2 separate regions of the Homo sapiens genome follow, and region 1 is reported to be linked to region 2. The links are microRNA targets in miRTarBase. Many come from high-throughput screens and were not tested one by one. Region 2 holds a microRNA gene; the other region holds the end of a gene's coding sequence.

Region 1 (3,575 bases), not on the chromosome of region 2:
ACCTTTGGGAATTTGATTATTAAATGCCTTGACATAGTCTTCTTCGGGTTAAATCTGTAGGTGTTCTATATTTGGATATTGATATTTTTCTCTAAGTTTGGGAAGTTCTTTGTTGTTATTCCTTTGAATAAACTTTCTATGCCTATCTGTTTATCTCCCCTTTAAGGCCAGTAACTCTTAGATTTTTTCTTTTGAGGTTACTTTCTAGATCCTGTAGGTGTGCTTTGTTTTTTATTTTATTTTTTTCCTTTTATGTCCTCTGACTGTGTATTTTCAATTAGCCTGTCTTTAAGCTCACTAATTCTTTCTTCTGCTTGATCAATTCTGCTATTAAAAGACTCTGGTGTATTCTTCATTATGCTAAATGCATTTTAACTCCAGAGTTTCTGCTTGATTCTTTTAAATTATTTTAATCTCTTTGTTAAATTTTTCTGATAGAATTCTGAGTTTCTTCTCTGTGTTATCTTGAATTTGAGTTTCTTCAAAACAGGTATTTTAAATTTCTTCCTGAAAGGTCACATATCTCTGTTTCTCCAGGATTGGTCCCTGGTGCCTTACTTTAGTTTGGTGAGGTCATGTTTTCCTGGATGTTTTTGATGCCTGTAGATGTTTGGTGCTGGGGCATTGAAGAGTTAGGCATTTATTGTAGTCTTCTCAATCTGGGCTCGTTTGTACCCATTCTACTTGGGAAGGCCTTCCAGATATTCAAAAGGACTTTGATGTTGTGATCTAAGCCATATCTGCTTTAGGGGCCACCCTAAGCCCAGTAATACTGTGGTTCTTGCCAACTTGTAGAGGTACCACCTTGATGGTTTTAAGCAAAATCTGGAAGAATTCTTTGGATTATCAGGCAAAGGTTCGTATTCTCTTTCCTTACTTCCCCCCAAATGAATGGCATCTCTCTCTTTTCTGAGTCACCTGGAGCTCTGGGTGGTGTAACACAAGTACCTCTGTGGCCAAAACCACTAGGACTGTGCTGAACCGTTAGACCTGAAGCCAGCACAGCACTGGGTCTTACCCGAGTCCTGCTGTAGTCACTACCTGGCTATGGTCTATGTTCACTCAAGGCCCTGGGGGCTCTACAATCAGCAGGTGGCAAAGCAACCAGGCTTGTGTCCTTCCCTTCAGGGTGGTGAGTTACCCCTGGCCCTGTGCATGTCCAGAGGTGCTTTCAGGGGCCAGGGTCTAGAGTCAAGAGCTTTAGAAGTCCATCTGATATTGTACTGTACTGCAGATAAGGTAGCATTCAAACCAAAAGACTCAGTTCTTCCCATTCTTCCCTCCCCTTTCCAAAAGCAGAGATGCCTCCCACCATGGCCACTGCCACCATAGGCCTATGGGGAGTACTGCCGGACTACCACTAATGTTTCCTTAAAGAAGGCCCCAAGGCTCTTCAGTTAGCTTGTAGTGAATGCTGCCTGGCCTGGGACTTGCCCTTCAGGGCAGTGGGATCCCCTCTTGCCTAGGGCAGTTCCAGAAATGTATTCCAAGAGCCAAGTCCTGAAATTGGGAACCCAAGGGCTCACTCTGTGCTCTACCTCACTGTGACCAAGCTGGAAGACAAAGTCCACTTTGCTTTTTCCTCTGTTTTTCTCAAGTAGAAGGAATCTTGACCCATAGCCACAATAGCTGGGACTATGCTGAGTCTCACCTGAAGCCAGAAATTCTCAGGGTCTCACCTAAAGCCCTCCACATAGTACTTAAGTATCGCTGCTGGTTATTTAGGGCCCAGAGGCTTTTCAGTTAGCAGGTGATGTGTCCTTCCAGGACTGAGTCCTCTTCAAAGTAGCAGGCTCCCTTCTGGCCCAGGGTGTGTCTAGAAATGTCATCTGGGAGCTAGGGCCTGGAAAGGGGGCCTCATGACTCTGACTGGTGCCCTATCTTCCTGTGGCTGAGCTGCTATTCAAGATGCAAGACAAAGTCTTCCCAACTTGAGTCCTCCTTGAGCAGTCGGAAACGGTCTCTTTTGGAGCCATGAGCTGTGCTGCCTGGGATTAGGGGAGGGGTGATTCCAGCACTCCCTTAGCCACTCTGTGACCACCCCCACTCCCTGCCAAGTCCACTGTGTCTGGGCCTAGTGCAGCACTAGGACTCACCTAGGAATTTCAAGTTTATATAAGCCTCCAGAGTACTTTAGCTTGGCAGCGGCAAGGCTTGCAGAAACTTAAATTCCGACAGCTGGGATCAGCAATTCTCCTCTAGCTAGGGCTGGTTTAAATTAGCCCTCTGTGGGCAGGTGTCAGGTGAGTTTGGTCTGGTTTTGTTTTCTGTTATAATGGGGAAGCACTGAGTTCAATGTCTCACAAATGCTGCAGTCTTTCTCTCCTCACCACACAGAAATGCTCTCCACACCACACCCTTGCTGCTGGAGGATGGGAAAGGGGGGGTGTTGGTGATTCCAGACTGTTTTTCCTATCTCTTCCGTGTCTCAGCAATATGAAGTTAAAACTACAGACTCTGAGTGCTCTCCTGATTTTTGATTCTTAAAAAGGTGCTTTCTTTGTTTAGATAGTTGTTAAATTGGTGTCCTTGAAGGGGGATAATTGGTGGAGTCTTCTGATTTCTTGCCTGGCTTATTTATTCACAGACTTTTTATTTTATATTTAAATATGTAAGTATAAATACTTATGTATTTGCTATAAATTATCTTAAGCTAAGGTCACTTATAACCTATGAGTTCTAATATAAGCAGTAAGTAATCTTCTGTATTTCAGGAATCCAGTGTGTCAGATTTTTGAGATTCACTAGAATAATTTATCAATTAACTTTTCTTAGCATCTATATAATTCCCCAAATGGTCAAATTTGTTTACTATCAAGTACTATTCAGCCGATCCACAGAGCCACATAAATCTATTACAGAGCTTTTTACTGGTCAAGGTTAATCCTGGAAAGATGACGTGGTGACAGAAGGTAGTCAAGCAGGCAAACGGTGAGGAAAAAACTGAAGCAAATCTCTTTCCTCCACAAGTTTCATGCCTCCCTTCTACAGGCTCGGATCCCACTTCCCTTCTATTGCTCAAGGATATTTCTTAGGGAATCAGTGGGGTAACATGTCCTCTGTCTCAAGTGTGAGAGATGGAAAGAAGAAGCATCTGAGCTTCCACAAGGTGCTCCTGCCCAGTACCTTGGGCAGTACATTGACGAGGAGATCTGGATTTATGAATCTTACATGAAAAAACATGTAGCTCAGCAGTCTGATGAAAAATAGGGTGATGAAAAAGAGACAGCAAAAAATCCTAAAAAGAGAATGCCATGAAACTGTTAACCAGAAGCTTAGAAAACTTGGAACAAAAAATAAATCATACCTGAATGCATATCTGGCTCCTAATTGATATTCAAATGGATTATCACCCCCTTTCCTGACAACCTTTTATAATGGCAGCTCCCCCTCCCATATTCTGTCCTATTGGTTATTCTCTGTCCATTACCGTGTTTTATTTTCTGGGTAGCATTTGTCACTAAAATAATTTTGTTCTCTGATTTTTTGTTTTGTTTATTTTTGGTTTTGTTTTGGCAAGTTGTTTTTCAAAACAGTTTCATTGGCTTATAACCCTCTAGCAAGGTATAAGTTTC
Region 2 (4,068 bases):
AGTCCAGCGCCATGGCCGGGTCCCCGGCGAGGCCGCCTTTCCTCCTCGTCCTCCCCCTGAGGCCCCTCGCCGGGCTGGGCGCCGTCGGGGTCCCCGAGCGCGCGGTGCCGGGGCTGGGCCTGGCCGCTCCTCCTGGCGCGGAGCCCGGGCAGGCGCGGTCAGGGATGGTGGGGATGGCGGCAGCAGCTAGACCCGCGCTGGTCCCTCGGCGGCAGCTGACTCGCTGGATCCCCTCCGGCCCGCGGTCCCTCACCTCGGGCCGCGCGCCCCGCCCCTCGTGCCTGCCGGCAGGGCCCGGGTGGGGGCGCCGAGTGAGGCCAATGGGCGGGCACGGCGCGGACAACACCCCGGGCACTGCGCTTCGCCGCCGCGCCTCATTGGCCGGGCGTGCGCGGGAGGCGGGGCGCGGGGGACGTGGTGGGCGCGCGGGCGGGGCGCGGGGACGCCTCAGACAAAGAGCGCGCTGGGTGCGCAGGTCCGGCGGGAGGGGACGCGCGGGGTGGCGGGGTTGAGCCGAGGACTCCCCCACCCGGAGTACGCGGGGTGGCTCTGGTCTGGACCGGGTCGGGAACCGGACCCTGGGTTCGGAGTCCGGCGCCGCCGCAGAACCTCAGCGCCCTAGTCTGTGCCGTGCGGACCCTGCCGCGAAAACGGCCGTGGAGCGCCGGGACGTTCCGAGGCCCGCAGACTGGGACGCCGCTAGTTGCGAAACTCCGCGAGCGGGAATCGCCCGTGGGGAGCCTCTGCCCGTCCCGCCTGCGCGCCCGCGGCGGCGGTGGCCTCCGGGGCTTCCGGACTCCTGGCCGAACCCGCCGGGTTCTGGGGGTCGGACGCGCACGGGCGCTTCCTGCGGAGCCTGAGGCTGGGATTTGGGCGGAGAGCAGGGAACCTTAAAAGGGAAAGGGGCCATGGGCAAAGGGCGCAGCAGGCCTTCGGGCCACAGCTCCTTCCCGAGGACTGCGGGTCGCGGGAGCCGCGGAAGGTTGTGGAGAGAGGGAGGTTCCTGGACTGGGCTGCAGAGTGGAGTCGGGCCAGATCGCAGCGCCTCCGTCAGCGGCGGCCGGACGGGGCGAGACCGGAGGGGCTCGGTAGGGGCCGCGCTCAGGCGCTGAAGTCGGAGGGTGCTTGGCTCTGGGTCACCAGGGTATCCATGGGCTGCGGGGATGAATGAGAGCCGAGTCTGACTCGGCCCCCCAGGAGTCCCTGACATTCGCAGTGGCAAGGGACTGCCCTGGTCCCTGTGGAGCGTCCCATTCGGTGACTTCCCACCAGCCCTTCCCCAGCGCCTCTGGAGGTCCAGACTGTCAGGTTGGAGCCTGGGAGCAGGGACGGGCCAGGCGCTTTCTCTTCGCTGTAGGAGTCAGATCAGCCTTAGGCCGGGCCCAGCTTCCTTCTTTAGGGCCTGCAGGCAGGCAAGGCCACACCGTGTGCCACGTTTCCAGGTTTAGGGTCACATGGTTCTTTTATCCAAATTCCAGTGGGTACCTACCTCCTGGAGGTGCAGGTCGAAAGGTTCTGTGTATTTGGTACTAGGACACACAGGTAGGTGTTGTCAGTAGTGCAGCCTGGTGCTAGGGGCAGGGGTCCCCAGTGCTCATGTTAGTTTCCTTTTAGAGTCTAAGTAGAATGTTAAGCAGAGACCCAAACCCTAGGTCTGCTGACTCCTAGTCCAGGGCTCGTGATGGCTGGTGGGCCCTGAACGAGGGGTCTGGAGGCCTGGGTTTGAATATCGACAGCCTCTCTGACCCACTTGGTTGCCTCAGGGAGGCAGGTGTGCGGATGGGGGAGAGTGGCCCATGGGCCAGAAAAGCAGTGGTATGGGGGCCCCAAGAGAAGCCCAGACCCAAAAGGGCAGGAGCTGGCTGTGGGGCTACTCAGGTGGCTGGAGGCCTCCTGCAGACACAGTGATTACACTGGACTACCTACATGTAGTCACTTACCTTAGGAACAGGATGTCCTTGGGATGCTGGAGGGCTCATGAGGTAAAGCACAAATCCCTGCACATCCATTCCTGGTTGAGGAGGTTTGGGAGGGAAATCCAGTACCTTGACAGCATGTGGCAGTAGTGAGAAAATGATGGAAACGGATAAGGAGACAAGCATGACCTGTTTTGCTTTGTTATTGAGAGAATGCACATGCCTTGAAAATTATGCTTGGGGCAGGTTGCACTGAGCTGTCAGTCCCTGGGGTCCTTGGGAAGGGGCCTAGTAGCCTGGTAAACAGTAGGTATTCCATAGTTGAGCTTCAGAAACCTCCTTGAGGCTGGGTTCAGTGGCTCATGCCTGTAATCCAGGCACTTTGGGAGGCTGAGGCAGGAGGATCGCTTGAAGCCAGGAGTTTGAGGCCAGCCTGGGCAACATAGTGAGGCCCCATCTCTAAAAAAAAAAAAAATCGGCAGGATGTGGTGGCGCATGCCTGCAGGCCTGTAGTCCTAGCTACTCAGGAGGCCGAGGCAGGAGGGTCGCTTGAGCCCAGGAGGTCAAGGCTGCAGTGAGCTATGATCGAACCATTGTGCACCAGCCTGGATGACAGAGCAAGACCCTATTTCAAAAAGAAAAACCTCCTTGCAGGGAGGGTCCTTTGTTGAGAGAGCTGAGGCAGGCCGTGTGAGGGCAGCAGTGGGATCGTGCCAGGCCTGGGAGATGAGGAGTGCGGGCCCTTAGCTGTGCACTTTGCAAGGAGAGGGCAGGGTTCTGGGTGTGTGTGTGTGGTCGGGGGAGGGCTGTTGGATTTGGGGACTAAGGTCAACATGTGGGGGACAGTGGAGGACTGGGCTCTGGGACAGATTTGCCTGACCTGACCCGCCAAGGGAGCCTCAGCTCCCTTGTGGGTGACAGGGGGCTGCCTTCAGCTGGAAGTACCCTGAGGGCAGGTCCCAGGTCTGTCCCCTTCATCTTGGTGTGCCCAGGGCCTGCACAGTTGACACTGGGTGGGGGACATTGGGGAGGGGGTGAGGACAGGCACTGGAAAGGGATGCGTCCACACGGGTGTGCTGCTGGGTTACTAAACTTTGCAAAACCACATCTTCCTGAGCACCCTGTTTCCCTGCTGCCTGGGAATCATGCACTCAGTCGGCGCACTGCCCTGTGCCCTGTGTTGGGGACAAGACAGACACAAATCCCTGACCTCCATGTCAGGGCTGAGGAGAGACCAGAAAGGAGGAGTGAAAAAGTTGGTGCCAAGTAAATGAATCCGTATGCCTACATCTTGGACACTTGGGTTCAGTGTCTATTGTTTTATTTCATTTCCTGAGGATAAGGTTACAGCACAGAATGTGCTTTCTCAAACTCCCATGTTCCACAGAGCCCTGGACCTCCCATCCCAGAGGAGGCAGGGCTCTGTGCAGCCCTGAGGACCCCAGCCTTTTAAGGGGCAGGGCAGACCCAAGGCCAGCACAGGACAGCAAGGCCGGAGGGACTGTCACGGGGCACCGAGGGTCAAGCCAGCTCACTGGAAAGGGTGTGTTGGAGTTTTCCCTGTGTACAGCTTTTATTCTCACACAAGACAGGTTCAGTGTGGAGAAATCAGAAACGCCAGAAAGTAAAAAGGAAACGCAAGTCTCTGTCCCCACCCTGGAATCTTGGAGCTGAATGACCCCCTGCAGGAGCTGTTTGGGCCAGGACTTGGGGGGGGTGGCTGCAACTCAGGCTGCCAGAGGGCAAGTTGAGGGGGAGAGGATGAGGCACCAGCTGTGTAGACCTTCCCAGGAGTTAGGCTGTGCAGGGGAGAGTGCACAGAAGGGCTCTGGCAGCAAGCACAGGTGTAGACTCGGGATGGGAGCCACCTGAGCAGGTTGCAAACTCCTGGCCAAAGATTGGTGGGGCCGGCGCGCTGTCAGTCGCCTCCTGTCTCATATTGGAATACTCGAGCTCAGTGCCATGGTGTGAGGCCCAGGGTAACCAGACTACAACCTCACCTCCCACCTTTCATGCCCTCTGGCCCTCTTATTGGAGCCCACCCTCTAAGCTTGTGCCCCTCTCAGGGCCTTGGCACTGGCAGCTCCTCTGAGTCCCTGGGGTCCTTGGGAAGGGGCCTAGTAGCCTGGGATTACAGGCACCCGACACCATG

What was found. Region 2 holds the annotated microRNA hsa-miR-345-5p (GCUGACUCCUAGUCCAGGGCUC, at 1,657-1,678, shown strand). A microRNA usually pairs through its seed, bases 2 to 8, with sites in the 3' UTR of a target mRNA and lowers its output. Matches are read on the target gene's strand: a 7mer-m8 pairs with bases 2 to 8, a 7mer-A1 pairs with bases 2 to 7 and ends in A, and an 8mer does both.
Region 1: the mRNA of TMCO5A is a reported target of hsa-miR-345-5p. The part of its 3' UTR that is shown has no 7-base or 8-base seed match.

Annotation. Positions count from the first base shown.
Region 1 is chr15:37,950,699-37,954,273 of GRCh38, reverse strand. It overlaps TMCO5A (transmembrane and coiled-coil domains 5A), which reads right to left. Exons shown (of 12, transcript NM_152453.4): 12 at 2,852-3,238. The coding sequence ends at 3,040. Among named protein-coding and RNA genes, the nearest start is that of TMCO5A, 18 kb to the right of the region's middle.
Region 2 is chr14:100,306,220-100,310,287 of GRCh38, forward strand. It overlaps MIR345 (microRNA 345), which reads left to right and starts at 1,640; the gene lies at 1,640-1,737. SLC25A29 (solute carrier family 25 member 29) reads right to left here and starts at 225. Exons shown (of 4, transcript NM_001039355.3): 1 at 1-225. The coding sequence starts at 13. RefSeq lists silencers at 56-155, 216-685, 776-845 and enhancers at 936-1,005, 1,036-1,205.